Regions from separate parts of the Homo sapiens genome. Here regions 1 and 2 are each linked to region 3. The links come from fine-mapping of genetic effects on gene expression. A gene starts in region 3. Each other region holds a variant in brackets. All regions are shown on one strand. Distances are from middle to middle. Region 1 overlaps CHAF1A (chromatin assembly factor 1 subunit A). Region 2 holds the start of PLIN5 (perilipin 5). Region 3 holds the start of CHAF1A (chromatin assembly factor 1 subunit A).

Region 1 (10,274 bases), 33 kb after region 3:
TTGAGGATGATGATGACGACATGGGAGAGGATGAAGATGAGGACGATGGTTTCTTTGTGCCCCATGGGTACCTGTCTGAGGACGAAGGTGTGACAGAGGTGAGGGAGTGAAGGGGGAGGTCACCGGCTCAGCAAAAGTTCATTTCTGGACTGGTGCTCAGTGGCCTGACCTGGGAGGGTGACGGGGGTCCCAGCCCAACCATACGAGATTTGGACTGCATTCCAAGCACGCAAGCTCACTCGTGGGAACAGCTGGGCCTGAACTTGGTATTACCTGGGAGGGTGGCAGACGTAGGAGGAGCTTGCAAGCGAGGGGAGCCATAGGAGCAGACACCCTGGTGAGGGAGCGTGGCCATGGTCTGTGGGTTAGAAGGCTGGAAACCACCCGAGCTGACATACAGTCAGCATGCAGCAAGACATGTGCATTGTAAGTGTTGAGTTTGATGACGTAACAATCAAGTGAATGTGGGCAACCACCGCCCGAAATAAAACAGAACTTCCCTATCTCTCCAGAAGATTGCCCACGTCTCTGCAGGCGAACCTGCCTGCCACCCCTTTCCAGATTCCATAAGGTTGTGGAACTGTCTTTTTTTTTTTTTTTCTTGAGACGGATTCTCATTCTGTTACCCAGGCTGGAGTGCAATGGCCCGGTGTTGGCTCACTGCAACCTCTGCCTCCCGGGTTCAAGCAATTCTCCTGCCTCGGCCTCCCAAGTAGCTGGGACTACAGGCGTGTGCCACCACACCTGGCTAATTTTTGTATTTTTAGTAGAGACGGGAGTTCATTATGTTGGCCAGGCTGGTCTTGAACTCCTGACCTCCAGTGATCCACCCGCCTCGGCCTCCCAGAGTGCTGGGATTACAGGCATGAGCCACCGAGCCCGGCAGGAACTTGCTTTCAAGCAAGTTGTTTTTGGTCCTGTTTTGTTTTGAAGGCCTGTCGTTTGGGAAGTGGGGATTTGGTGGGACTGTCTCATGGTTGGACTGGAGGCCTAGGCATTCCTTGTGCATATCTGACCACCGAGGCCTGAACTGTCAGTCAGAGAGTGGTCTCAGGCCCTGCATGTGTCTGCCAGATGCCTGGGCCATGTGGGTAGACACCCAACCCTGTTAAACGGCTCCACGATCACACATTCACCAGAAAATTCAGAGGGGTGTTAAAAGAGGCCTCATGGGTGAGTTCAGAAATATCTGTGACGCTCCCAAAGGAGACCAGGTGTGAATTATTCCATCTGGAAGAGGGGCAGCCAGCGCATGGTGTGCTCTGCCCTGGCCCTGACACTGTGGGAAGTTTTGTGCCCCTGTCCTTTCCTCTTGCTCCCCAGCTGGCTGGGGACTGGTTCCTCAAAAGAGTGCCCGGGCATAGGGGAGCAAGAACCCCAAATAAACTTCTGCTTTCTAAACCACAAGGAGTGTGCCGACCCTGAGAACCATAAGGTCCGCCAGAAACTGAAGGCCAAGGAGTGGGACGAGTTCCTGGCTAAGGGGAAGCGCTTTCGCGTCCTGCAACCTGTGAAGATCGGCTGCGTGTGGGCGGCTGACAGAGACTGCGCAGGCGATGACCTGAAGGTACTGCAGCAGTTCGCAGCCTGCTTCCTGGAGACCCTGCCGGCCCAGGAGGAGCAGACGCCCAAGGCCTCCAAGCGGGAGAGGAGAGACGAGCAGAGTGAGTGTGGGCGGGGCCAGGCCACCCACCTGTTCCTGGGCCCAGCTAATTCCAGGGCTGAGGGCAAGAGTCACAGGCTAGTGGGTCCGTGATGCAAATGTTCTTTCCACAAATAACAGAGGCCAGCCCTTTTCCTGTACATGTCCGTACGTTCAATGATGTCCCTAGCAGCAGGACGAGGCAGGTCCCTTAATTGGCTTGTTTTATCAACCAGGACACAGGCACAGAGAGTGCTGGAGTGGGGGCTGTGCTTTCTCAAAAGCCAGGGAGGGGCCGGGCACAGTGCCTCATGCCTGTGATGCCAGCACTTTGGGAGGCCAAGGTGGGAGGATCGCTTGAGCCTAGTGCTTCGACACCAGCCTGGGCAACATGGCAAAACCCCATCTCTGCAGAAAATGCAAAATTACCTGGGTGTGGTATCACGCACCTGTGATCCCAGCTACTCAAGAGGCTGAGGTGGGAGGATTGCTTGAGCCTAGGAGTTTCAGACCACAGTGAGCCATGATCCTGCCACTGCACTCCAGCCTGGGTGACAGAGCAAGACCCTGTCTAAAAAAAAAAAAAAACTCAAAAAACTGGGGAGGGACCATGGCACACAAGGAGAGCAGGGCAGTCATTTGGGTAGGAACAGCAGGCATTTGAAGTCAGCCCTGGCAACACACGTGCCCGGCCAAGGCTCACTTCTGGGCAGGTGCGTAGGTGCTACCCTGTCTTACACCCGCCCTCATGAGGCCACCTATCCCCGAAGCTGGCCATGCCCCAAGCCTCGGTGGCAATGAGCTTGTGTATGTGTTTTGTTTTTTGGCCTGTGGTGATGGGTGGCTCCCCAAGCCTCATGCCCACCCATGTTCCCTCCTGCCAGTCCTGGCCCAGCTGCTGCCGCTCCTGCACGGCAATGTGAACGGGAGCAAGGTCATCATCCGGGAGTTCCAGGAGCACTGCCGCCGGGGACTGCTCAGCAACCACACCGGCAGCCCGCGGAGCCCCTCCACCACCTACCTGCACACCCCCACCCCCAGCGAGGATGCCGCCATCCCCTCTAAGTCCCGGCTCAAGCGGCTCATTTCCGAGAACTCAGTGTATGAGAAGCGGCCTGACTTCAGGATGTGCTGGTACGTGCACCCGCAGGTGCTACAGAGCTTCCAGCAGGAGCACCTGCCCGTGCCGTGCCAGTGGAGCTATGTGACATCGGTGCCCTCGGCCCCCAAAGAGGACAGTGGCAGCGTCCCCTCCACGGGGCCCAGCCAGGGCACTCCCATCTCGCTGAAGAGGAAGTCAGCGGGCAGCATGTGCATCACCCAATTCATGAAGAAGCGCAGGCACGACGGCCAGGTGAGGTGGGGTGGGCAGGTGGGGGCCTCTGCAGGGCTTTTCTTTTTTTGTTTGTTTTTTGTTGTTTTGTTTTTTTTTCGAGATGGAGTCCTGCTCTGTCACCCAGGCTGGAGTGCAGTGGCGCAATCTCAGCTCACTGCAACCTCCTCCCTCCTGGGTTCAAGTGATTCTCCTGCCTTAGCCTCCTGAGTAGCTGGGATTACAGGTGTACGCCACCATGCCTGGCTAATTTTTGTATTTTTAGTAGAGACGGGGTTTCACCATGTTGGTCAGGCTGGTCTCGAACTCCTGACCTCATGATCCGTCTGCCTTGTCCTCCCAAAGTGCTGGGATTACAGGCGTGAGCCACCTCGCCTGGTGTTTTTGTGTTTTTTAAATAACCTTACTCTTAGAGCAGTTTTAGGGTCACAGCAAAATCGATTGGAAGGTACAGAAAGTTCCCATACACCTCCTTCCCCAAAGCCAAGCCAAGCCACCCAACATCACCTCCCAGAATGGTGCATTGGTTACAATCAGTGCACCTCAGGCCAGGCACTGTGGCTCACGCCTGTAGTCTCAGCACTTTGGGAGGCTGAGGCGGGAGGATCACTTGAGCCCGGGAGTTGGAGACCAGCCTGGGCAACATGGCAAAACCCCATCTCTAAGAAAAAATTTTTAGATTAGCCAAGCGGTGGCATGCACCTGTAGTCTCAGCTACTCAGGAGGCTAAGGCGGGAGGATTACTGGAGCCTAGGAGATTGAGGCTGCAGTGAGCTATGATCATGCCACTGCACTGCAACCTGGGCGACAGAGCAAGACCCTGTCTCTAAAAATAAATACATAAAACGCACCTTCGTTGATTTATCACCACCACTAGGGTTTGTTGCTGGTGTTGAGGGTTCTGTGATTTGAATGAATGTTGGATGCTGTGCGTCTACCTTTATTGTTTTAAACAAAGAGGCTTCTCCCCACTGAAAGGCCCCTGTGCTCTGCCCGTCCAATCCCTTGGAAATCACCAACCTCTCTATCTCCGTGGATCAGCCTTTTCCAGATTGCCCTGTAGCTGGAATCGCATCGTGTGTGGCTCCTTTGACTTGGCAGTATGCGTTGACAGTTCCTCCGTGTCTGTTTGTGGCTTGATAGCTCTTTTTTTTTTCACACTGAATAATATTCCATGTGGTAGCATTTTTATTTTTGTTCAACGGTTCTTGAATTTTGCATTCAAGCACAGTTATTAAGCACTTACTGTGCTCCAGGCACTCTGATCGGTCTCTCAGACACAGGTATATGCAGAACACCGCCCGGTGTAAGGCACAGACAGGAGCCTGTAAGGGGAATGAATGGCTGTGTGATTCCAGCCTTATGGGTGCCTCGGAGGCACAAGCGCATGGAGCCCTGGGGTGTGTGATGGGGGCACTGTCTGGTCTTAAGAAACTCTCATGCCCAGAGAGCCACTGGCCCCTGGCACCCACCCCTGGCCATAGATCGGCTTTGTTAACGTTCATTGCATACTTTTTGTCCTTACCACACAGTGTTCGGAAGTGAGTTTCTCTTTTTTCTTTTTTTTCCTTTTTTTTTTTTTTTTTTTTTTTGAGACAGTCTCGCGCTGTTGCCCGGGCTGGAGTGCAGTGGTGTGATCTGGGCTCACTGCAAGCTCCGCCTCCCGGGTTCACACCATTCTTCTGGCTCAGCCTCCCGAGTAGCTGGGACTACAGGTGCCCGCCACCACGCCCGGCTAATTTTTTGTATTTTTAGTAGAGACGGGGTTTTACCGTGGTCTCAATCTCCTGACCTCGTGATCCGCCCGCCTTAGCCTTCCAAAGTGCTGTGATTACAGGCATGAGCCACCACGCCTGTCCTGGCCTTTTTTTGAGTCAGGGGTCTTACTCTGTTGCCTAGTCTGTAGTGCAGTGGCGTGATCACCACTCACTGCAGCCTTGACCTCCCCAGGCTCAGGCGATCCTCCCACCTTAGCCTCCTCAGTAGCTGAGAGGGACTACAGGTGCATGCCACCACACCCAGCTAATTTTCTGTAGAAACAGGGTTTCACCATGTTGCCCAGGCTGGTCCCCAACTCCTGGGCTTAAGCAATCCCCCTGCCTTTGCCTCCCAAAGTACTGGGATTATAGGTATGAGCCACCGTGCCTGGCTCCCTGAGTTTGATTTCTAATATCTACACTTAACGCAGACCTATCTGTCCCTGTGAACCTTGGGCTTTCCTTCAAGGCCACGATCTGATGGAGTTACAGGTTTTCAGAGACTTGGGACAAGGAGCAAGACAGTGGATAACCCCCGGCCCCAGCTTGCATCCTCTTCTCTGATGTTAAAGGTGGTCGTTGGCTGGGCACAGTGGCTCACGCCTATAATCCCATCACTTTGGGAGGCCAAGGCGGGCAGATCACCTGAAGTCAGGAGTTCGAGACCATCCTGGCCAACATGGTGAAACCCTGTCTCTACTAAAAATACAAAAATTAGCTGGGCATGGTGGCAGGTGCCTGTAATCTCAGCTACTCGGGAGGTTGAGGCAGGAGAATCGCTTGAACCCAGGAGGTGGAGGTTGCAGTGAGCCGAGACCACACCATTGTACTCGAGCCTGGGCAACACAGCAAGATTCTAGTCCCCC[A/C]AAAAAAAAAGAAAAGAAAAGGTGGTCGTTAGGGGCAGGGAGGCGAGAGAAATGGCTCCTGAGATGATGCTCAGCCATCTCCCTGCTGCCAGCACACAGCCATGGGCCTTAATATGCTGTGAATCTCCCTCAGCTGTCACAGCAGGAGGGGCCATCATAACATCCCAAAGGGTCCAGGGCTACGACTGAAACTGTTCCTGGCACTCCCTAGAGCCTCTGTCCCTGTACAGTGTGTCATGTGCATAGTTCCCCTGGCTCTGTGGAGGCGGCTTGGCGCCGTGGGAAGCTCAGTGCATTGGAGCTGGGGCCACAGGAGGCCCCCACACAGAGCTTTGCTGGATGCATTCTTTGTTCAAGCCCTGTGTGAGCAGTGCCTTTCCCTGGTCACCTGAGCAGCCTTAGAGGGAACCGGAGCTCCCCAGCCTGAAAATGATCGGGGCGGGAAGGTACTATCTGGTTGTGTCACTATGCAAGCAGTTTTCCAGGGCCTTTGCTGATCAGCCCTCCCCTGGGAACCCCTGTGTCCCTCAGATGTTCCTTTGGGGTCTCCTCATGCTCCACACAGTAGTCCAGGCCCTGGACGGCCTCCTTCCCCACCCCTCTCCACTGATTTGATGCAGCAGCTGCCTCTCCCAGCTGGGGTGCAGTGCCCCGCCCCTGGTCCTCCCAAACACTGCTCTTGCTCCCTGTCAACATGTGGAACCCATGTTTCCCCACCCGGAAAATAGCGCCCTGAGCCCCATGTGCCCAGCACCACATCAGAGTTACTGTGCTTCGGGGGCAGTGAGTGCCTGTTTATCATCCCTAACCACAAGGAAAGAAGGGTGCACCCAGTTTAACTAGAGTGGGTCAGAGAGGTTGGGTGGGCCTTGGAGTTAGCAAAACACAGCATCTCACCTGCTAATGGATGGCAGTGGTGGCCACATGCGCGTGATTGGTGGCCTCTGCTGCGTGGCACAGGTGAGGGCCTCCTGGGGCTCAGCAGTGCAGCGGACGCACGAAGGTCACACGTGAAGGAATGGAGACCCAGGCCCAGCTTGATGCTTAACCCCCACCCCTGAACCTCCTGCAGTTTGGGACATAAACGTCCCTGGGGAGCAGGGTCTGGTCCTGTGTTTTTTTTCAGAGCTTGTGTGGGGAGGGGCACACAGGTGGGACCCAAAGGTGGGGCTGTGGAAGCACATGAGCCCGGATGGGACATGTGCCCTGGCATCCTCTGTTTTTTTTTGACAGGGTCTCACTCTGTTACCTAGGCCGGAGTGCAATGGTGCAGTCACAGCTCACCGCAGCCTCCACTCCTGGGCGCAAGTGATCCTCCTGCCTCAGCTTCCTAAGGAGCTGGGAGTATAGAGGCACGTGCCACCATGCCCAACTAATTTTCAAATATTCTGTAGAGACAGGGTCTATGTTGCCCAGGCTGGTCTCCAACTCCTGAGCTCTAGCGATCCTCTCTCCAGCCTCCTGGCATTTAATAAAGCTGCTGACTGATGCTTCTGCACCCAAGGGGAGGGATAAGCCATTCATCTGCAAGTGGTGTACATCCATATTTTTTACTCGGTTACACTTTTTTTCCCAATTTGAAAGTTTTCATCTTTTTTATTTTATTTTATTTTATTTTGACGGAGTCTCGCTCTGTCGCCCAGGCTGGAGTGCAGTGGTGCGATCTCAGCTCACTGCAAGCTCCACCTCCTGGGTTCACGCCATTCTCCTGCCTCAGCCTCCCAAGTAGGTGGGACTACAGGCGCCCACCACCACGCCCAGCTAATTTTTTGTATTTTTTTAGTAGAGACGGGGTTTCACTGTGTTAGCCAGGATGGTCCCGATCTCCTGACCTTGTGATCTGCCCGCCTCGGCCTCCCAAAGTGCTAGGATTACAGGCGTGAGACACCACGCCCGGCATCTTTTCTTGTTGTTAAATTAGAAACAGGGTCTTGCCCTGTTGCCCTTTATTATTTTAGGTTCAGGGGTACATGTGCAGGTTGGCAAACTCATGTCACGGGGGTTTGGTGTATAGATGATTTATTGGGTACTAAGGTATTTTTTCTGAATTTCTCCCTCCCACCGTCACATAGGCTCCAGTGTCTGTTGTTCCCCTCTTTGTGTCCACATGTTCTTATAAGTGAGAGCATGTGATATTTGGTTTTCTGTGCCTGCGTTAGTTTGCTGAGGATAATGGTTCCCAGCTTCATCCATGTTCATGCAAGAAGAGGTTTTTTTGTTTTGTTTTGTTTTGTTTTGTAGATATTGGGTCCTGCTGTGTTGCCCAGGCTGGTCTTTGAACTTGTGGGCTCAAGCAATCCACCTGCCTCGGCCTCCCAAAGTACTGGGATTACAGACCTGAGCCAGGGAGTCTTTAAATCTTTTTACTTAGAGCTCAAAAGAGATATTCTTAAGGCATTCTGACCTAGTGGGGTGAAGTGCCATGTATCTGTGAAGCCCTAGGACACCTCAACTCTTCGGGCCTCCGTTTTATTTAAAAATTTTAAAATACAAGGAAGGATGTGTTTGCCCTTGCCAACAAAACATTATGTGATCAAAATAAAACTAAAGAAGCATAGATGGCCGGGTGTGGTGGCTCATGCCTGTAATCCCAGCACTTTGGGAGGCCGAGGTGGGTGGCTCACAAGGTCAGGAGATTGAGACCATCCTGGCTAACATGGTGAAACCCGTCTCTACTAAAAATACAAAAAATTAGCCAGGCGTGGTGGCGGCTGCCTGTAGTCCCAGCTACTCGGGAGGCTGAGGCAGGAGAATGGCATGAACCTGGGAGGCGGAGCTTGCGGTGAGCCGAGATCGCGCCACTGCACTCCAGCCTGGGCAACAGAGCGGGATTCTGTCTCAAAAAAAAAGCATAGATGGCTGGGTGCAGTGGCTCACGCTTGTAATCACAAAACTTTAGGAGACCGAGGCAGGCGGATCACTTGAGAGGCCAGGAGTTCAAGACCAGCCTGGCCGACATGGTGAAACCCCATCTCTAAAAATGCAAAAATTAGCTGAGCATGGTGGTGCACGCCTGTAATCCCAGCTACTCAGGAAGCCGAGGCAGGAGAATCACTTGAACTCAGGAGGTGGAGGTTGCAGTTGAGCCGAGATTGTGCCACTGCACTCCAGCCTGGGCAACAGAGCAAGTCTGCGTCTCAGAAAAAAAAAAAAAAGACAAAAAGGCACAAATGTTAGTGACACCATCTTCATCCCATGTAGTCGTTAAACGTTTTCCTGACTCCTGTTTTCCGTAGTCTGCGCTCCTCCGTGTCTGTGTTTAGCACTTGCAGTGCTGCTGGCGAGATGACAGCTGTCCCCGTGAAGCAAGCTGCCGGCAGCTCAGCACAGTGGGACTCGGTGTTATGTGTTAAATCCTGTCTTCAGCCTAGAGGGTGAAGAGTGGTGATTGCTCTGAAAAATTTTGGATCCAAGAAAAGCCTAATGTGTCAACGCGTCTCCTGTGTGGAGGGAGGGCCCAGTGACTTGAGGTGGCTCTGAAGAAATTGGCATGTTCTTTTGTTTAACGTCCCCAGACACCTCCAGATCAGAATGTCCCTCCTCAGCAGCGTCTACAGGGGACTCTTAGACTCTTCTTTGCTTAACTATTCTTTCAAAAAGGTAGTTGAAAATGGCCGTAGGCCAGGCTCAGTGGCTCATGCCTGTAATCCCAGCACTTTGGGAGGCTGAGGCAGGAGGATCACTTGAGACCAGGAGTTGAAGGGTGCAGTTACCTGTGATTGCACCACTGCACCACAGCCTGGGTGACAGAGCAAGATGTTTCTCCTGTGTCCTCACAGGGTCAACCCATGCTGCCTGGGGAGAGGGACAGCCTGGGCTCCCAGCCACTGAAGAGAGGATCCAGGAGGGGAGCCCCTACCCAGGAATTGATGAGGCTACGGTAGGAACCCAGTCTGCCTGGCCAGGCACTGTGCTCTTACATGACAGCCCATGAAACCAGTCTATGGCCTGACCGTTGTGTTGCTGTGCGGTCACTTTTCTAGGTTTTTGTAGAGGAAGAATTCCTGGAATTTTTTGAGGACTATCCTCCCTACTGAAATAAGTGTGGCTGTCTGTCCTGGGATGGGCTTGTGTTCATGCACAGAGAGGGTAAGCACTGACGTGGAGGCTCATGGTGGCCTCTACGCATCCTGTCTTTCTCCTTTGGTGAAAGCAAATGGAAACAGCTCAGGAATCTTACTAGGGTCAGGTGCGGTGGCTCACACCTTGTCATCCCAGCACTTTAGGAGGCCGAGGTGGAAGGATGGCTTGAGCCCAGGTTGAGACCAGCCTGGGCAACATAGTGACACCCCCTTGTCTCTACTTAAAAAAAAAAAAATTAGCTGGGCGTGATGGCGGGTGCCTGTAGTCCCATCTTCTCAGGAGGCTGAGGCAGGAGAATGGTGTGAACCCAGGAAGTGGAATTTGCAGTGAGTCGAGGTCTAAAAAAATAATAATAATAATTCACAAGTCACAGTCATCACTTCACATCAGGGACGTGTTCTGAGAGGTGTCCTCAGGCAATTTCATGGTTGGGTGGGGCTAGGTTGCTCTTACACATCCTAGATGGACAGCCTGCCACACGCCTGGGCCGTGTGGTACATAGCCCAGGGCTCCTGAGCTGTGGACCTGTGCAGCAGGTGACTGACTGCTCCATCCTGCAGGCACTTGTAACCCAGTGGTATATGTGTCTTTAA
Region 2 (10,274 bases), 130 kb after region 3:
CCTGAGCTCAATTGATCCGCCTGCCTGGCCTCCTAACGTGCTGTGTTTACAGGTGTGAGCCATCATGCCTGGCCTGCTTAACCATTCTTTTAAGCAGCCTTTTAAAAATATAGGTTGGGTGCAGCAGCATGCACTTGTAATCCCAGCACTTTGGGAGGCCGAGATGGGAGGATTGCTTGAGCCCAGGGAGGATTACTTTGAGACTAGCTTAGGCAATACAGCAAAAAACCCTGTCTCTAAAAAAGAAATACAGAAATTAGCCAGGGCTGGGCACAGTGGCGTGTGCCTATAGTCCCAGCTGCTTGAGAAGCTGAGGCAGGAGGATCAATTGAGCTCAGGAATTGAAGGCTATGGTTAGCTACGATCACACCACTGCCCTCTAGCCTGGGCAACAGAGCAAGACTCCATCTCAAAAAAAAATTAAAATTAAAAAAATGAATGAAAAATAATAAAAAAAGAGAAAATCCACACAAGATATGGTGGAAAAAAATAAAAAGAATATATCATAGTCCAGGCACAGCGGCTCACGCCTGTAATCCCAGCACTTTGGGAGGCCAAGGCAGGGGGATCACTTGAGCCCAGGAGTTGGAGACCAGCCTGGGTGACAGAACAAGACCCCATCTCTAAGAAAAAAAATTTTTTTTTTTGAGATGGAGTCTCGCTCTGTTGCCCAGGCTGGAGTGCAGTGGCGCAATCTCGGCTCACTGCAAGCTTCACCTCCCAGGTTCACGCCATTCTCCCACCTCAGCCTCCTGAGTAGCTGGGACTACAGGCACCCGCCACCACGCCCGGCCAATTTTTTGTATTTTTAGTAGAGACGGGGTTTCACCATTCACAGGATGGTCTCGATCTCCTGACCTTGTGATCTGCCCTCCTCGGCCTCCCAAAGTGCTGGGATTACAGGCGTAAGCCACCGCGCCCGGCCTAAAAAAAAATTTTTAAATCAGCCAGATGTGGTGGTGTGCACCTCTAGTTCCATTTGTCTAGGAGGATGAGGCAGGAGAATCACTTGAACCCAGGAGGCGGAGGCTGCAGTGAGCCAAGATCATATCACTGCACTCTAGCCTGGGCGACAGAGTGAGACTCCACTTCAAAAAAAAAAAAAAAAAAAAAAAAAAAACAACAATGGTTGGGCGTGGTGGACTCACGCTTGTAATCCCAGCACTTTGGGAAGTCAAGGCAGGTGGCTCACCTGAGGTCAGGAGTTTGGCCAACATGCAAAACCCCATCTCTACTAAATACACAAAAATTAGCCGGGTGTAGTGGTGGGTGCCTGTAATCCCAGCTACTTGGGAGGCTGAGGCCGGAGAATCGCTTGAACACGGGAGGCAGAGGCTGTAGTGAGCTGAGATCGCAACACTGCACTCCAGCCTGGGCAACAAAGTGAGAGATTCTGTCTCAAAAAAAAAGAAAAAAAAATTCAGGAGTGCCTGGCACACAAGAAGTGCCTGATCAATGCCTCACTGCCTTTTTTTTTTTTTGAGATAGAGTCTCGCTCTGTCACCCAGGCTCAAGTGCAGTGGTGCGATCTCTGCTCACTGCAAGCTCCACCCCCCGGGTTCACGCCATTCTCCTGCCTCAGCCTCCTGAGTAGCTGGGACTACAGGCGCCCGCCACCACGCCCGGCTAATTTTTTGTATTTTTAGTAGAGACGGGGTTTCACCGTGTGAGCCAGGATGGTCTCGATCTCCTGACCTCGTGATCGGCCCGCCTCGGCCCCCCAAAGTGCTGGGATTACAGGCCTGAGCCACCGTGCCCGGCCGCCTCCCTGCTTTTCTGCTGAGGTGGGGGTAAGCCCATACATTCTTCCAGTACTGTAAGGCCAGAGTTGGACATTCACATGGTCTCCAGGGCCAGGCAGGTACCAAAAACCATCAAAGTAGATATGACATAAACCACTGGGGACTAGTGGAGCTGAGCAAACCATCTGAAGGAGCAGACAATATTCTGGCTGTGTCTAGTTTTTCTTTTTTTTTTTTTGAAACGGAGTCTCGCACTGTGGCCTGGGCTGGAGTGCAATAGCGCGATCTCAGCTCATTGCAACCTCCACCTCCCAGGTTCAAGTGATTCTCCTGCCTCAGCCTCCCGAGTATCTGGGAATACAGGCACACGCCACCACGCCTGGCTAATTTTTTGTATTTTTAGTAGAGACGGGATTTCACTATGTTGGCCAGGCTGGGCTCGAACTCCTGACCTCATGATCTGCCCACCTTGGCCTCCCAAAGTGCTGAGATTACAGGCGTGAGCCACTGTGCCTGGCAGTGTGTCTGGTTTTTCAAAACAAGCCAAGAATCGGGACATGTAATGCAAAATCTGGTTGTTAAATGCATGCAAAGAATGAAAATATTTAAAACACGCTGCACAGGCATTTGGGGGCCACCAGTTTGGGACCTCAAGTCTAAAAGCCCTATATGCCCTTAGGGTCTGGGTGTTCTGACTCCTGGCGGGATGCAGGTTGAGGGGCCGTGGAAGTGACCGGGAGGGAGGACAGGCCTGGTTTTGAGTTGTATGTTTCCTGCTGATCTGCTGTGTGACCTTGGGTGAGTCTCAGACCTCTCTGATCTGTACCACAGGGGATGGGGACGGGGCAGGACTCAGGGGTTAGGGTTGAGGGTGTCGTCCTCACCGAGCTCTTCCTCCGTCATGGGCAGGAAGTGATCCACCAGCTCCTCTGATTTTTCCAGTACAACATCCACAGCATGGCTCACGGAGCGCTTCAGCTCCACGCTCCAGCGCCGGCCCCTCCGGGCCAGGTCCACCACACCCGTGACACTGCTGGCCACCACGTCCTTGGCTGAGGTCACCACCTGGAAGGAAGGGCCCCCCCACTCCAGGCACCGTGGGACTCCAGCTCCATTTCTGCCACCCTAGTTCCCTGGGGCTGGGACTCAAAGATCCCTGGACTTCTACCTGGCTCCGTGCCTCAGTTTCCCCTATAAAATGGGTGATAAAACCCTTCCCTCACAGAGGGTGTTGAGGGAGTTAACTGCCCTTACTAGCAATACATATGTATACACACATACATATACATATATACACATATACACACATATACATATATACATGTATATATACACATATACATATATACTTATACGTATATATACATATATACTTATACGTATATATACATATATACACTATACGTATATACATATATGTATACACACACACACACACACACACACACACACACACACACACGTTGCAGTTATTTTAACCTGGCTGTTTTTTCTTGAGTTAACTAAAAGCCTGGTTGTCACCATCCCTCCCTCCCTCCCGCCTCTAATCTGGCCTGCCCCCACTGGAGGTCCCCATGTCTAGTCGTCCGGGGTACCGTCTCCGAAGGTTGCTGGAGAAAGGGAAGCTTCTCTTCCAGCTTGTCCAGGCCCCTGCAGGCGAGGCTGTTCATAGTGGCCACTGAAGGGAGAGAGGCGGGGAGTGAGACTCGGGGAGACGCAGAGGGAGATAGGGACGCAGTGAGAGTTGTAGAAGGAGGGAATGCTAGAGAGAGAAGCAGAGACAGAGAAGGAAGGAGACCAGGATAAGACAGGGAGAAACAAAACGGAATGATGGAGACGAGACCCACACCAGGAGATGGACAGGCTTTCTGAGACCTTACACCAAGAAGCCGCTTACACCAAAGACGCTGGGGCAGACACCTGTGGCGCCTGGAGAGAGAGTCTACGAGGGAGATGGGGAGAAGGCCTAGACCACAGGGGGACCTGGCTGCCTCCCTAGGTGAGACTGGGGGCCCTGAGGGTGTGGGTAGGCCGCTGGGTTGGGCACTGCCTCCTCTGCCATCCTGCCTGGGCCCTGCCACCCACCCTGTTCTCCCAGCACCAAGGCGACTTTTCAGCCGTGCCCAGCTCAGATGGCCCAGCGGACAGACTCAAGGTCACAGAAGCTGGCTGAGAGGGAGGTGAGGAGGTGCTGGGCTAGGACCCTCAGGTGACCCTCTTCCTGGGTCAGACTAGAGGCCAAGGATCCTGTAGTCCCCCGCCTGTCATCGGCTCAGGGGTCCACAGAGATGTGAGAACTACAGAGCGGAGGCTGCGGGGCTTAGGACAGGCAGAGGCAGGTGCAGAGGGGAGGGGGCCTGGAGAGACAAATGGACCCAAGGCACATCAGGCCAACAAAGGAGGGGACACAGGGAGACAGATGGATAGGGACAGAGAGGAGGGGCCCCACCAGTAAACAGGTAAGGGCAGAGGGCCAGGGGATCAGATTTATTTATTTATTTTGAGACAGAGTCTAGCTCTGTCACCCAGGCTGGAGTGCAGTGGTGCGATCTCGGCTTGCTGCATCCCCTGCCTCCCAGGTTCAAGCGATTCTCCTGCCTCAGCCTCCCATGCAGCTGGGATTACAGGCGCCCTCCACCACGCCTGGATAATTTTTTGTATTTTTAGTAGAGTTGGGGTTTCACCATGTTGGCCAGGCTGTTCTCGAACTCCTGACCTCAAGTGAGTGATCTGCCTGCCTCGGACTCCTAAAATACTGGGATTACAGGCATGAGCCACCGCACCTATCAGGGGATCAGTTTTTTTTGTTTGTTTTTGCTTTTTTTTTTTTGAAATGGAGTCTCACTCTGTTGCCCAGGCTGGAGCGCAATGGTGCGGTCTTGGCTGACTGCAACTTCTGCCTCCCGGGTTCAAGCAATTCTCCTGCATGAGCCTCCTGAGTAGCTAGGATTACAGTTATGTGCCACCACACCGGGCCAAGTTTTGTATTTTTAGTAGAGACAGGGTTTCACTATGTTGTCCAGGCTGGTCTTAAACTTCTGACCTTGTGATCCAACCGCCTCAGCCTCACGAAGTGCTGGGATTACAGGCATGAGCCACCACACCCAGCCAGATTTAAAAAAAAAATTTTTTTTTTGAGATACAGGGTCTCGCTACGTTGCTCTGGCTGGTCTTGAACTCCTGGCCTCAAGTGATCCTCCTTCCTCGGCCTCCCAAAGTGCTGGGATCATAGGCATGAGCCACCATGCCTGGCTGGTGATCAGATTAAAGAAGGACTTAAGTGAAGAGATTGAGGACAGGTGGCATGGCAGTGGGACAGGTGGCTAGGCTGAAGATGACCCCCAGGAGTGTCATGCAGATAGACCAAGGAGGATGGGACAGGGGGCGGTGGGGGGGTGGCAAGCCACAGCTCCCAGGGACACGGGCCAGGGCACTCACGCTGGGGCTGCAGGTGCTCGAGCAGCGGCTGGGCGTGGTCCAGGGCACGGGTGGTCAGGCCGCACACGCAGTTCTCAGCCAGGCGGCAGGCGGAGCCCAGCAGCGGGTGCCTGTCCTTGGCTGCACTGTAAACATCGCAGACCGCGGTGCACGTGGCCCTGACCAGGGGCAGAGCCACCACACGCTGCACCACGTTCTGCGGGAAGGGTCGGCATCAGGGGGACCCTGGGGGAAGTGGGGCCCTAGCCACACCTCAACCTACTTCCCCTCTCTGGGCCAG[G/A]ACGAGGGATGGGAGAGTGGAAGGATGGAGTACTGAGCACCCCGCCACGTAGAGGCAGTGAAGATAAACGTGGATGTGAGAATGTCATGGTTCCTGCACTCACAGGCTCCTCTTCCCATGGCGTACACAGAGCATTACAATTTTGTTTGTAATGGGGTTTCACTCTTATCACCCAGGCTGGAGTGCAGTGGCACCATCTCGGCTCACGGCAACCTCCTCCTGGATTCAAACGATTCTCCTGCCTCAGCCTCCCAAGTAGCTGGGATTACAGGTGCCCGCCACCACACCTGGCAATTATATTATAAGAGGGAGTCTCGCTCTATCGCCCAGGCTGGAGTGCAGTGGCACGATCTCGGCTCAGCGCAACCTCCGCCTCCCGGGTTCAAGTGATTCTCCTGCCTCAGCCTCCCGAGGAGCTGGAATTACAGGCATGCGCCACCATACCCGTTTTTTTTGTTTGTTTTGTTTGTGTATTTTTAGTAGAGATGGGGTTTCTCCACATTGGTCAGGCTGGTCTCAAACTACCGACCTCAGGTGATCCACCTGCCTTGGCCTCCCAAAGTGCAGGGATTACAGGCGTGAGCCACCGCGCCCAGCCAATTTTGTTTTTATTTTTATTTTTAGTAGAAACAGGGTTTCACTATGTTGACCAGGCTGGTGTCGAACTCCCGACCTCAGGTGATCCACCCACCTCAGGTGATCCACCCACCTCAGCCTCCCAAAGTGCTAGGATTACAGGCCTGAGCCATTGCACCTGGTCACAATTTTTTTGTTTTCAATAGAGACAAGGTCTTGCTCTGTTGGCCAGGCTAGAGGGCAGTGATTCAAGCACGGCTCACTGCAGCCTAAGCCTCCTAGCCTCAAGCAATCCTCCAACCTCAGTTTCCAAGTACCTGGGATTACAGGTGCACACCACTGTGCCCAGCTAATTTTATTTTATTTTATAGAGATTGGGTCTTGCTGTGTTGCCCATGCTGGTCTTGAACTCCTGGCTCAAGCGATCCTCCCGCTTCAGTCTCCTAATATGCTGGGATTATAGGCATGAGCCACTGCACCTGGCCAAATACTATATTTTTTTTATCTGCATTTGGTTGAAAAAGGTCTGCATACTTCTGTCTCCTGGGTTCAAGAGATTCTCCTGCCTCAGCCTCCCAATTAGCTGGGATTCCAGGCAGGCACCACCCCACCTGGCTTTTTTTTTTTTTTGAGATGGAGTCTCGTTCTTGTTACCTAGGCTGGAGTGCAGTGGCGTGATCTCGGCTCACTGCAACCCCCGCCTTCAGGGTTCAAGCGGTTCTCCTGCCTCAGGCTCCCGAGTAGCTGGGAATACAGGCACCCGCCACCACACCCGGCTAATTCTTGTATTTTTAGTAGAGACAGGGTTTCACCAAGTTAGCCAGGCTGGTCTCGAACTCCTGACCTCAGTTGATCTGCCCGCTTGGCCTCCCAAAGTGCTGGGATTACAGGCGTCTGAGCCACCGCACCCAGCCTGACCTGTGCAGTTCAAACCCATGTTGTTGAAGGGTCCACTGCGATCTGTCTGCTCGAGGGAGGAGATGTTAGAGTCTGGGGGTTCAGAGCACTGCCCCTGGAGCACAGTGGCCTCTGTTCACTTCTGGTTCAGCTGCCTGCAAGTTGTGTGAACTTGGGCAAGCCACTGAACTGTTCGGTGCCTTTGTTTCCCCATCTATGAAATGGGTTACTAGGGTTGTGATGGGTGTTCAAGGAGCCAATATACATGAAACGGTTGGAACTGTGACTGATACAGTGATTGCTGCTCTTACTATTGTTGTTACTGAGGGCGCCATGATGGTGGACGTGGAGACAGAAGGATACAGGTGGAGACCCAGGGATCAAAGGAGAGGGAAAGGGTTGGGTAGGGGCCACAGAAGCCAGCTGGGTGTCTTTGAGAGACACTCCCCTCCCAGGGCCTCATTAAGCCCCCACTAGGAAATAGACCATCCCCTCCATGGACCAAAATATTTTATGACTCAGGTTTTCCCAGCAAGGAGAGGAGTGGGGCGGGATACCTGGCCTGAAACGCTCCTAGAAGGGACTGTCCCACACAATACCTTCTGTCCCTGCTCCATGGGAGGGGCAGCCCTCACCTGCTGGTCCTGCTCCCACACACTGGATCTGGGGATCTGAGCCGCCTCTTCTTCAGACATCGTGCTGCAAACAGGGTCACCCTGCGGGGCAGGATTGAGTAAGGGGAGCACCTGCCCAGGCATCAGATCCTGTCAAATTGGGCTCTGTGACTTGAGCAACTCTCAAACCTCTTGGGGCCTCAGTTTCTTCATCTGCATAATGGGGCATTCTGTGGAGCTCAGACAATGCATGTCCAGAGCTCTGTACACAGAGGGTGTCCAATAATGAGCCTCTGGCAAGGTAGGGTTGCCGGAGTGACTCGAAGCATGGTCTCTGAGGTGAGAAAGACCTGGGTTCAAATGCTACCATTAATTGCGGTGTTATTTTTATTATTTTTTTAAAGACAGAATCTCTCTCGCCCAGGCTGGAGAGCAGTGGCGCCATCCCAGCTCACTGCAATTTCCGCCTCCCAGGTTCAAGTGATTCTCCTGCTTCAGCCTCCCAGTTAGCTGGGATTACCCACGTGCCACCATGCTCGGCTAATTTTTGTATTTTTAGTAGAAACCGGGTTTCGCCATGTTGCCCAGGCTGGTCTCAAACTCCTGGGCTCAAGTGATCTGCCCACCTCGGCCTCCCAAAGTGCTGGGATTACAGGCATGAGACACTGCACCTGGCCAGCTGTGTGATTTTTGGCAAGCACCTTCACCTCTCTGGGCTGCTTCCTGTTTTGTAAGATGTGGGAGGTCCCTGCTACCCCTGCGGCCCCTGCCTGGGCCCAGAACTGCCCAAGCACCCTAGACGGCTGGAGGTGGTAGCTGCTGGGTCCCAGTCCACTCACAGCTCATTTGACAGACAGGGCAACTGAGGTACGCAGCAGGTCCATGCTGGTCCCAAGGTCACGCAGCCAGCTAGAGTTACAGGGGGGGAGCTCGACCTCGGGCCTCAGACCTGCCGCCTGCGATCCCTCCGGTTGCCACCCCGCGTCCTCTGAGGCCTGGTCCTCGCCCAACTGGGTCCTGAGCTGGGGCCAACCGGGCCAAGGGTCCCAGCCACCTGCTCTGGCCGGTCATACCCGTCCCACGCCGCCGGACCTTCGCCCAACCACCCTATCTGGAGCTCCTCTCCTAAGCCCGGGGGGGCGCTCCCGGACGCCGCCCTCAGGGCACTCACCTGGGCGCGAGCGGCTTCAGACACCAGCTGTCTCCGCCGACCCCAGGCTCGAGTCTCCACACCCCCGCCGGTCCCGCCCGCCCTTCTTATAGCTGCTCGCGCAGTGGGGGCCTCCGGAACTGACCAATGGGGAGAGGCCGTGCGGGGGCGTGCCCAGGGGGCGTGGCTCCAGGCTTCCCTCGCCCTCTCCTTGAGCTGGCCCAGTGCCCTACGGTTGCCATAGTAATTCGGGAGCGCTAGATTCAAAAGATTGAGCTATTATACGTTCCCGGACCAAGTTTGGCCACCTGTCATCCTCACTGCTGTTGCCATAGAGACAGTCCATGCGATCACAGCCCCCATAGCCCTGCTGAGTGACCTTGGCCAACTCGCTGATGACTTTTCTTATTAATTATTATTATTTATCGATTTTTGAGACTGGGTCTTGCTCGGTTGCCCAGGGCTAGAGTGCAGTGGTGTGATCATAGCTCACTGCAGCCTTGCCCTCCCAGGCTGAGGTGATCCTCCCGCCTCAGTCTCCTAAGTAGCTGGGACCACAGGCACACACCACCACCCCCAGCTAACTTTTTAAACTTTTTGTAGAGACGAGATGTCCCTGTGTTGACCAGGCTTGTCTTCAACCCCTGAGCCCCAAGTGATCCTTCCACCTCAGCCTTCCAAATTGCTGGGATTACAGGTGTGAGCCATTGCACCCAGCCTCTTTTTATTTCTTAATCTGCCCCTTAACTAAGCCAGAAGCCAGGCCTTCCCTTTCCCTAGGATCCCCATTTCACAGATGAGCAAGCTGAGGCTCAGAGATCATAAAACACTTGCCCCGCATACCACAGCAAGTGAGGGATCCTATTCCTTTTTTTTCTTTTTTTTTTTTTGAGACAGAGTCTGACTCTGTCGCCCAGGCTGGAGTGCAGTGGCGCGATCTTGACACACTGCAACCTCCGCCCCCTGGGTTCAAGTGATTCTCCTGCCTCGGCCTCCGGAGTAGCTGGGATTACAGGCGCCTGCCACCACACCTAGCTAATTTTTGTATTTTTAGTAGAGACGGGGTGTCACCATATTCGTCAGGCTGGTCTTGGACTCCTGACCTCGTGATTTGCCTGCCTTGGCCTCCCAAAGTACTAGGATTACAGGCATGAGCCACCGTGCCCGGCCAGGGATCCTATTCAAACCCAGCCCTGCTGGACCTCAGAACCCTGCCTTTTCATTGCCTTGCCTGGAATGACCACAGATGTAGGCATGGTCTTTTTATTTTTATTTTTATTTTTGAGACACAGTTTCACTCTGTCGCCCAGCCTGGAGTGCAGTGGCGTGATCTTGGCTCACTGCAACCTCCGCCTCCCAGGTTCAAGTGATTCTCCTGCCTGACCCTCCCAAGTAGCTGGTATTACAGGCACGTGCCACTGTGCCTGGCTAATTTTTGTATTTTTAGTAGAGACAGGGTTTTGCCATGTTGGCCAGTCTGGTCTCGAACTCCTGACCTCCGGTGATCTGCCTGCCTCAGCCTCCCAAAGTGTTTGGATTACAGGCATGAGCCACGGCGCCAGGCTGCATGGTCATTT
Region 3 (10,274 bases):
GATGGGATCTCCCTATATCGCCCAGGCTGGTCTTGAACTCCTGAACTCAAGGGAACCCCTGCCTCAGCCTTCAAAGTGCTGGGATTACAGGCATGAGCCACAGCACCTGGCAGGGTCCTTACTTTTTTCTTTCCAGGGGCAAAGGTACCTGCTGGGTGTTACTGGGGACTCGTTTCTCTTTGCTCCCACTGGGCATCTCCGAACTGTGGGCAGAGAACCCTGTTTGCCACCTTGGCCCAAGCATTTGCTAAGATCATTGCTCATTCCTCGGTGGACTCTATCTACACAAATTCCACACAACCTCACCCTGCAGTACACGGACCAATAGGATTCAACAATCTGAGGCTTCTTGTCTTTTTTTTTTTTTCAAGACGGAGTCTCGCTCTGTCACCCAGGCTGGAGTGCAGTGGTGCAATCTCGGCTCACTGCAACCTCTGCCTGCCGGATTCAAGAGATTCTCCTGTCTCACCCTCCTTAGTAGCTGGGGTTACAGGCAAAAATACAAAATTTTTGTATTGTTAGTAGAGATGGGGTTTTGCCATGTTGCCCAGGCTGCTCTCAAACTCCTGGCTTCAAGTGATCCGCCCGCCTCGGCCTCCCAAACTGCTGGGATTCCAGGCATGAGCCACCGCGCCCGGCCAAATTTGAGGCTTCTTGCATTCGAAATTGCAAAGTGAAAATTTTAAATGTGCCCAGTTTTCTGGAGAGTGGATCCACAGCTTTCACCAGATTCATGAGCAGTGGGCCCTGGAGTTTCCAAAAAAAACCCTTTATCTGTCCATATCAAATGCACTTAGGCTGGGATGCAGCATTCTACTTCTGGGAATTCATCCTATAAAACTAATCCCACTGGTGAGCAAAGATATTCACTGGCTATTTATTGTAGTAATGGTAACAGAAAATTCCGGTAAACAATAGAGATATCTATCAACTGACAACTGGTTAAATAAATTATGGTATATGTCATGGAATGAAATACAATGTACCCATTAAAAAGAGCCAAGTAGGCCAGGCAGGTGGCTTACGTCGATAATCCCAGCATGTTGGGAAGCCGAAGCAGGCGGATTACTTGAGGCCAGGAGTTCGAGACCACCCTGGGGCACATGGAGAAACCCTGTCTCTGCTAAAATTACAAAAAGTAGCCGGGCGTGGTGGCGCATGCCTGTAGTCCCAGCTACTGGGGAGGCTGAGGCAGGAGAATTGCTTGAACACAGGAGGCGGAGCTTGCAGTGAGCCGAGATTGCACCACTGCCCTCCAGCTGGGGCGACAGAGCATGACTCCCTCTCAAAAAAAAAAAAAAAAAAAAAAATCCAAGAAGTGTGGAGTATGGTCTAGAGCAGTAGTCCTGGGGGACAGGAAAGGAAGGGAGGAAGGAAAGAAGAGAAGGGAGGGAGGGAGAGAGGCAAGGAGGGAGGGAGGAAGGAAGGAAAGAAGGAAGGAAGGAACGAAGGGAGGGAAGGAGGACTGATTCTAAGGGGACACACGGTGATGTCTCAAGATATTTTTGGTTGTCACGACTTGGGGGTGCTCCTGGCCCGGAGTGGGTGGAGGCCAGGGGCGCTGCTCAGCACCCCGCAGTGCCCAGGACGGCCCCACCACGGAGAACAATCCAGCCCCAGATGTCAACAGTGCCGACGGAGGGGGAGAAATCCCGCTCCAGTGTGATCTCCAAGCAATGAAAAACACAGCACACAGGATTCTGTGGCATATGCTATCACAGGGTACGTGTTTTTAAAGGAAAGGCACACACGTATCTTAGGAAAGGGACATACGGAGTCGATGACAGTCGCTTGTCTCTGGGGAGAAGGGCTGGCTGCCCGAGGAGCAGAGAGGGGAAACTGACTTCTTCCTCTACCTTTTCAACTTTGTACCTTGCCCATCCAGAGGATTTTGAACGTAACTGCTCTAGACGCAACTTTTCCCTGGCTCTGGGTTATCTGGCAAGAGTCCTGTGTCGACAGCCTCGGGACTCCTCTCTTCCCCTTCTCTCCCCGCACCCCGCCTTTGCAGCGGAGAGAAGGAGGGGAGAGGTCCGCGTCCCTGGGCAGCCCAGGGTGCCTCTCCCCTCCTCCCAGGGGCTCTGTCCCCGCTTCTGGAGCCCGCATGGCGGGCAGGGCCTGGGCCACCTCGTCGCCCCCGTCCGTCCCTTGGTCTTCCCACCTGGCAGGGGACACGCGCCAACGTCCCCACCTCGGTCCCCCCGGCCCCCTCCCGGGCCAGGTCGGGCCTGGCTCCCTCATCCGGGCAGCCCGGGGCCCGGTACTCGGCTCCCGCCTGGGCCTGCGCTCACCTGGCTCGCCTTGTAGAACTGCTTCTTCAGCCCCGCCACCGACATGCTGCCGCCCGCCGCCGAGCCTCCCGCCCGGACCGCGCCAGCGACAGGCTCCCGGGCGCCGCCGACCCTCTGCGCGCCTCAGCAGTCCCCGTCGGCGCCGCCTCCGCCACCCGCTTGCCAGCTCCGCGCCCGCCCCGGCGCCGCCTCAGCCGCTCGCGCGCCCGCGCGGCCAGGATATTACATGGCAACCGCACGCTTCCGGTGCCGGCCCCCGCGCGCGCCCCCGGCCCCCGCGCGCGCCCCCGGCCCCGTCTGCGCACGCGCGCCCTCTGCCGGCTGAAGAGCGCACGTGCACATTGTCTACCGCGGGAGAGGCCGCCTCTGTCAGTGAGTTGAGCGGGGCGAGCCTAGAGGGGCCGTAGCAGTTGCAGCGCCCCCTGGAGTCGTGGAGGTGACCCTAACGTCTTGGAAAACGCGCTTAGTTTAAACCTGGCCAGGGAGGTTGGGAAGTAGAAGGGGCCCCTGCTTACGATTCTTCAGATTCCTGTTTACTCATCTTAGCTAAATCCAGTTCGTCTAAGTGTTCAGCCCCCTCCCATTTTTATTTATTTATTTATTTTTTTTTTGAGACGGAGTCTTGCTTTGTCTCCCAGGCTGGAGTGCAGTGGCGTGATCTCGGCTCACTGCAACCTCCGCCTCCCGGGTTCAAGCGATTCTCCTGCCTCAGCCTCCCAAGTAGCTGAGATTACAGGCGCGCACCACCATGCTAGGCTAATTTTTGTATTTTTAGTAGAGACAGTGTTTCGCCATGTTGGCCAGGCTGGTCTCGAACTCCTGACCTCAGGTGATCCAACCCCCAACCCCCCCACCAAATCCAGCCTCCCAAAGTACTGGTCTCACAGGTATGAGCCACCGTGCCCGGCCACCTCTCTTCCTCTCTCTCTCTGTCCTGTGTTCATCCATTCAGTTGCCCACGTGACACATCTAGACATCTAGGTCTGTCTTCATGCCTTGACCATACTTTCCACCAGTCCTCCCCTCCAATTCTTCCTTGTCATGGCAGCCAGAAAGATGCTTCTAGAATGCAATTCAGGGCCAGGGGCGGTGGCTCACGCCTGTAATCCCAGCACTTTGGGAGGCCTAGGTGGGCGGATCACGAGGTCAGGAGATTGAGACCATCCTGGCTAACACGGTGAAACCCTGTCTCTACTAAAAAATAGAAAAAATTAGCCGGACGTGGTGGCGGGCGCCTGTGGTCCCAGCTACTAGGGACTCCGTCTCAAGAAAAAAGAAAGAAAGAAAGGAAGGAAGGAAGGAAGGAAGGAAGGAAGGAAGGAAGAAAGAAAGAAAGAAAACCTGTTTCTACACTCACAGGCTGACACTGAAGTTCTCTGTTTTGTGTGAGGCTTTTAATCTGCTTGATCTACACAGTTCAATCAAATATTTATACATTCACTCAAACATTTATTGACCTGGTAAATATGATCAGTTACTAACAGGTCCTGGGGTTCCAGTGAGGAATGAGTCCTACCCTCGCCAGAACTAATGACAAAAGGCAGAAATTAATTCATTAGTCAAATAACAAACTAATAAATAGACACAGCTGTAATTGCTTTAAGGAAAAGAACAGTGTTGTAGGCACTTGATATTGTCAGGGTTGGGGAAGAAAAGGCTTCCTGGGGTGACGATCTAAGATCTGAAAAGTATAAATTAGCCAGGAAAAGAGCTGCGAAAAGATTGTTCTAGGCAGAGAAAACAGCATGTGCCAATTTCCTGAGGATTAAACCAGAAACGATCCATTTCGTCCATTTCGTTCACTCATTCTACATGTTATTTACTGAATGTCAAATACTTCCGAAGCGCTCCCCAGACTTCGTTTTATTGTTCTTGTAGAAAGCAATTTATAATTTTAATTGCTGTTGCTATATTTAGCCGATGTCCCATTAGGATAAACTCAAAACTCCAGGTTCCTCATCTAAATCCCACTTTCAAGTTGTCATCTGCGCCTTGCGTAAAATGTTCTGGTGACGTAAGAGCCTGGGCCTCCCTCCTCTTAGGGACTATCCCACGCGATCAGCCAGTCGCAGCGCAGAGCAATGAGCTTGACACCTCCTTCCTCCAATCGCAGGGCAGCTCCTCCCAGCCAATGACAGGCCTCCGAGGGGAAGCCCAGTCCCTCGCGGATATGTCAATGGGCGAGCCCTGGGAGGAATGGAAGTCACGGATCTCGCGAGGATGCCCCCGGCGCCCCTCAATTCCCGAGGCGGGCCGTCACGTGACCCGGGCTCGCCCAATTGGCGCGCGGACTGCGGGGGTCGCCGCGGTTCCCGCCAAATACGAGCGCGGCGGCCGCGGCGGCAGCAGCGGCGCGGGCGGGAGGGCGAAGAGCAGCGGCCGCCTGAGGGGAGCCCGCGCCTCCGCCGCCTGAGAGGAGGTCGAGCTGCCGCCGGGGCGATGCTGGAGGAGCTGGAGTGCGGGGCGCCCGGCGCCAGGGGAGCCGCCACAGGTCGGTTCGGGCCCGCGCCGAGGGGAAGGGGGGGCGCGGCGCGCGGCCTGGACGGGCCGAGGCGGCGATGGGAGGCGGACGGGCCTCCGGGCGCCAAGCCTGGTCCTGCGGGCCGGGCGTTCACCCCCTGGGGCCTTCTCATCCCCAGCGAGGGCCTGGCGTCCCCAAGGGCACCCTTGTTGACGTTATTGTTGTAGCCGCGACCATATTGTTTGTTTCCGGCGCTTTTGCGTCAGTTCGTCCCTCCAGGACTCTCTGGGGCGGTGGGTCGGAGGGGCCGAGAGGGGAAACTGAGGCCCAGGGAAGCGAAAGGGCTTGCCCTGCAGGTTACTGGATGCGTTTGTGTCCCTTGACCATGTTGGACCTTGCAGCGGGTGGGGAAACTGAGGCCCAAGGTCGCACGGGCTCGGGGACCAGTACCGATGCCGCTGAGGGTCGGGGTAAGCCCGGGTAAGAAGAGGCCCAGATGGTAGAGATGGCCAGGAGGGTGGGACTCCCGAGTTCTTGCTCCTTCCTGATATGCACCGTGACTTCCTCCTCCGTGTGCCTTGGAATGGGGTCTTTGGAGCCCACCACAGGCCTCCTGAAACGTGGGAGGGTGAACCAAGGAAGACCAGACTGTCCCTCTCCCTTGCTGGACTCTGCATTACATAACGCTTTGGCAGCACTTGGCATTACGCTTTGGCACATAGTAGGTGCTCAGTAAATAACGTGAACGAATGAAGGGCTAGAATGGACGCCAGTCCAGTTTCTCAGCCTCAGCAGTGTTGATATTTGTTGCCGTCCTGGGCACGGCACTGCAGGGTGTTAAGCATCATCCCTGGCCTCCGCCTTTTGCAGGCCAGTAGCAGCCCCTCTCACCATGCCTTAGTAACAGCCAGAAATACCATTGCCCTGTGTCCCCTATGGGGCAGATTCCGCCTTGGCTGAAAATCATGGCTGTAGTTCCTTCTAGCCTGTGGGATTTCCCGGAGACATAAAATTAATATAAAGTTGGTACTGTCGTGGAGCTGTGATGTTTTAAGTCAGGATGTTTAACTTTATTTATTTATTTATTTTGAGACTGAGTCTTGCTCTGTTGCCCAACCTCTGCCTCTCTGGTTCAAGCGATTCTTCTGCCTCAGCCTCCCAAGTAGCTGGGATTACAGGCCTGCACCACCATGCCTGGCTAATTTTTGTATTTTTTAGTAGAGACGGGGTTTCACCATGTTGGGCAGGCTGGTCTCGAACTTCTGACCTCAGGTAATCCACCTGCATTGGCCTCCCAAAATGCTGGGATTACAGGCATGAGCCACCATGCCTGGCCAGGATATTTAACTTTAAAAAAAAAAATCGCTACTCGCTAGGACCATGCTATCATGAAAGGAAAGTATATTTTAGTGCCAAATAAAATTAGAAAGGATGTAATCGCAGAATAAAGAGCAGTTAGTAACTTTATACACACATATGTGTTAATCGTGTGTATCTTTGGATCTCTGGATTGGGAGTGTCCCGTTTTATATACAAGATTTTTTAATGAGGGTGGGTCCTGTTTTTAATGAGGTTGTTTCTGTTCCACTTGCACCAAAGCTAGTGACTCAAAGCCACACAAATAGATTTTTGTGATTGTCTCGAAAATAAAGTTAAGTGACTAAAAATCATATCCTTCAGTTAGGGGGTAGAAATCCATGGCTTTTGGTAAGTGGACACTTGAGAATGATACTGTCTTTATTTCTTTGAAGTGGCTAGAAAGGAAACATGAATTTTCTCAGTACCTTTTCTTATTCACTAAGCTTGGGGCGGTGGGTGAGGGGTGGTTTCATGTATGGACGATGGAGTTTTTTAGGAAGCCCCAGTCTGCTTTTAAAAAGTACTCACTTTTATGTAATGCTTACAAAACATACGTAGATTAACCAAAATAACTAAACTAGGTTTTGCCAAGCCAGATCTCCTGGTAAGTGTGAGCTTCCTAAACTTACTCTGTTTAAGGTATTTATCTAAAGACTCGCTTCTATTTATGATCACTGCTGCATCTGCTTTGATATTATTAGATGGTTTCTTGAGATTTTTTTTGCAGGAAAATATTTTGTCTTATCTTCTCTTGACAGCACTTCAGCTCCTGCCTGGCAAGCTCAAAGTGCTTTAAATTGTGGTACCTTCATGAATTCTCTTTAAAAAGAAAAGGATCCCTTTTCTGATTTTACAGATTTGGTGGTGGTATGGGGGCTTGGGTTGGAGGAAGATGTTTGGGGATCATGGGAATGAAATAGGTAATCTGATGTTTTCTCTCCTCCCTACTTTTACTCATTCCACTTTCATTTCATGAAACAGTTCCGGTTACTCTCTTAGTTGGCTTTCTGATTTATTCCAGACCCTAACCAGGTACCATAGGTGCAGCATGGAACAAGTCTTTCTGCTGTCATAGAGTTGGCATTTTGTTTCCAGAGAGACGTAATAAACACGAAAGTTTCAGATTAAATGCCACAAAGAAAATAAAACAAGACATGACAGTGTCTAGGGTAGGATTTCTCAACCTATTAACATTTTGAGGCCAAGCGCCGTGGCCAGCACTTTGGGAGGCTGAGGCGGGTGGATCACGAGGTCAGGAGTTCGAGACCATTCTGGCTAACATGGTGAAACCCCGTCTCTGCTAAAAATACAAAAATTAGCCGAGAGTGGTGGCATGCGCCTGTAGTCCCAGCTACTTGAGAGAGTGAGGCAGGAGAATCGCTTGAACCCAGGAGGCGGAGGTTGCAGTGAGCTGAGACTGTGCCATTGCACTCCAGCCTGGGCGACAGAGTGAGACTCTGTCTCCAAAAAAAAAAAAAAAATTTTTTTTTTTTGGCCCATATAATTCTTCATTGTGGTGTGCTGTGCATTGCATTGTGGGACATTTAGCAGAATCCCTGGCCTCTACCCACTGGATGTGAATAGCATCCCTTTGAGCCCTCCCTGCATCATGACAACCAAAAACATCTCTAGACTGTGTCAAATGGCCCCCGAGGACAGAGGGGTCAGAATTGCCTCCACCTTGTACATAATTGGCTCTACATATGTATTTGCTAACTTGATTATTTGCAGAATTTAACAGTTTACCCTTTGACACTTTTATTTGCAGCCATGGATTGCAAAGATAGACCAGCTTTTCCAGTTAAGAAGTTAATACAAGGTAATTATTTGGAAATGGGTTAAAGAGTTGTTCGTAGTTTATAGTCTTCCTTGTCTCTTGTTGGAGACCTCAGTGGAAGCCTGGAGCTAGAGGGGAGAGAAACAGTCCTTCTTCAGACCAGGAAGCTGGGAAAATGCTTTTCACACAGTAATGTCTCGTGGGGTTCCCACAAGTAAACCCCGAGGCCTCCACTTATGCACGATTGGTGTTTTGTAACTTGCAGCTGGGAGCTCTCCTGTATGTTGTAGGGAGCGTAGCAGCATCCCTGGCCTCTTCCCACCGGATGCCAGTAAGTGCATCCTCCAAGTCGTAACAACCAAAAATATCTCTATACGTGGCTGATGTCCCCTGGGAGGTAGAACTGCCCCCTCAGAGAACCACTGTTGTCCTGGAAGATAAATGCTCCCAAATCCTTCTGCATAAAACGGGGAGTGTGTTCACCCTTGGGCCAGATGAGCGGTTGGATTGTAATTTTTTTTTTTTTTTTTTTGAGACGGAGTCTCATTCTGTTGCCCAGGCTGGAGTGCAGTGGTGCGATCTCTGCTCACTGCAACCTCCGCCTCCTGGGTTCAAGCAATTCTCCTCCTTCAGCCTCCCAAGTAGCTGGGATTACAGGCGCGTGCCACCACACCCAGCTAATTTTTCTATTTTTAGTAGAGATGGGGTTTTACCATGTTGGCCGGGATGGTCTCGATCTCCTGACCTTGTGATCCCCCTGCCTCAGCCTTTCAAAGTGCTGGGATTACAGGTGTGAGCCACCGCACCCGGCCCAGATTGTATTTTTAGAAACTACAGTTTTGGGTTTTTCAAACTTGGGCTGGGTGCAGTGTTGCATACCTGTAAAACCAGCTATTTGAGAGGCTGGGGTGGGAGGAGTGCTTGAGTCCAGGAGTTCAAGGCTGCGGTGAATTATAATGACACCACTGCTCTTCAGCCTGGATGACAGAGGAAGACTCTGTCTCTTGAAAAAAAGGGGGACGCCAGATGCTAGGCTCACACCTGTAATCCTAGCACTTTGGGAAGCTAAGGTGGGCGGATTGTCTGAGCTCAGGAGTTTGAAACCAGCCTGGCCAACATGGTGAAACCCCGTCTCTACTAAAATACAAAATAGCTGGGCATGGTAGGGGGCACCTGTAGTCCCAGCTACTCAGGAGGCCGAGGCAAGAGAATTGTTTGAACCCGGAAGGAAGAGGTTGCAGTGAGCCAAGGGTGCGCCACTGCACTCCAGCCTGGTGACAGAGCAAGACTCTGTCTCAAAACAAACAACTCCCCCCACACCCCCCCCAAAAAAAAACAGGTTTTTATTTGGTCTATTACATGATGAAATAGTTAATAAAAGATGCAATGGCATTGAAGTAAGTGAACATAGGTTCTTTGGGAAATTCACTCTCCAAAGTGTTTCTGTGTTCCTCCTAACCAGCCCGAAGCCTGGCAGACTCTGGGAGAACAGTTTGATTGATGAGAAAAGCCTAACAGAGCCTAGGGTGCTGAGGCCAGGAGAAAAAAAAAAAACCCTGTCCACAAATGTGTCTATATTTTCTACTTGAGAACCAGATGCAGTTATTATCAAATGAGATTTTCACCCATTAAAAATAAATTTGGAATATGAACTGCATCTGAAATAAACAAATGTCTCTTGAAATTCTGGCGATGGCTCTGCTAAAAGGCTTGTCAGGATTTTGTTTTTTAAGTTAGGATGTTGAAGCGGGGCATGGTGACTCACATCTGTAGTCCCAGCACCTTGGGAGGTGGAGGCGGGCAGATCACCTGAGGTCAGGAGTTTGAGACCAGCCTGGCCAACATGGCGAAACCCTGTCTCTACTAAAAATACAAAAATTAGCTGGGTGTAGTAGTGCATGCCTGTAATCCCAGCTACTTGAGAAGCTGAGGCAGGAGAATAGCTTGAACCCAGGAGGTGGAGGTTGCAGTGAGCTGAGGTGGCGCCATTGCACTCCAACATGGGTGACGAGCAAGACTGTCTCCAAAAGAAAAAAAAATAAGTAAAATTAGGATGTTAGAAAAGGATAGAATGAAAAGATAGCACCCCCCACCCCCTCTTTTTTTTTGAGACGAGGTCCCTTTTGCCCAGGCTGCAGAGTAGTTGCACCACCACAGCTCACTGCAGCCTCTACCTCCTGGGCTCAAGCGATCCTCCTGCCTCAGCCTCCCGAAGTGCTGGGATTATAGATGTAAGTCAGTGTACCTGGCTTCAGATAGCCCCTGCCCCGTCTTTTTTTTTTTTTTTTCTTTTGAGAGTTTCGCTCAGGTCGCCCAGGCTGGAGTGCAGTGGCGTGATCTCAGCTCACTGCAGGCTCCGCCCCCCGGGTTCACACCATTCTCCTGC

Evidence for each region. PIP is the estimated chance that this variant, and not a neighbour inherited with it, causes the effect.
Region 1: its variant is the best candidate, but not a certain one, in a credible set for the expression of CHAF1A in lung (TOPMed, PIP 0.64).
Region 2: its variant is the best candidate, but not a certain one, in a credible set for the expression of CHAF1A in minor salivary gland (GTEx, PIP 0.79).

Annotation. Positions count from the first base shown.
Region 1 is chr19:4,430,544-4,440,817 of GRCh38, forward strand. CHAF1A (chromatin assembly factor 1 subunit A) reads left to right here. Exons shown (of 15, transcript NM_005483.3): 11 at 6-98; 12 at 1,409-1,664; 13 at 2,527-2,996. Among named protein-coding and RNA genes, the nearest start is that of MIR4746, 10 kb to the right of the region's middle. RefSeq lists enhancers at 187-950, 6,136-6,636, 6,637-7,137. The variant A/C (reference allele first, on the strand shown) is at 5,599.
Region 2 is chr19:4,526,447-4,536,720 of GRCh38, forward strand. PLIN5 (perilipin 5) reads right to left here and starts at 8,778. Exons shown (of 8, transcript NM_001013706.3): 1 at 8,719-8,778; 2 at 7,569-7,649; 3 at 5,181-5,376; 4 at 3,338-3,420; 5 at 2,627-2,807. The coding sequence starts at 7,628. It overlaps LRG1 (leucine rich alpha-2-glycoprotein 1), which reads right to left. Exons shown (of 2, transcript NM_052972.3): 2 at 9,956-10,274. RefSeq lists an enhancer at 7,929-8,484. The variant G/A (reference allele first, on the strand shown) is at 5,461.
Region 3 is chr19:4,398,033-4,408,306 of GRCh38, forward strand. CHAF1A (chromatin assembly factor 1 subunit A) reads left to right here and starts at 4,608. Exons shown (of 15, transcript NM_005483.3): 1 at 4,608-4,782; 2 at 7,880-7,930. The coding sequence starts at 4,731. It overlaps SH3GL1 (SH3 domain containing GRB2 like 1, endophilin A2), which reads right to left and starts at 2,515. Exons shown (of 10, transcript NM_003025.4): 1 at 2,292-2,515. The coding sequence starts at 2,336. RefSeq lists enhancers at 1,876-2,705, 4,368-5,065, 5,066-5,761 and silencers at 1,994-2,043, 2,104-2,613, 4,576-4,855.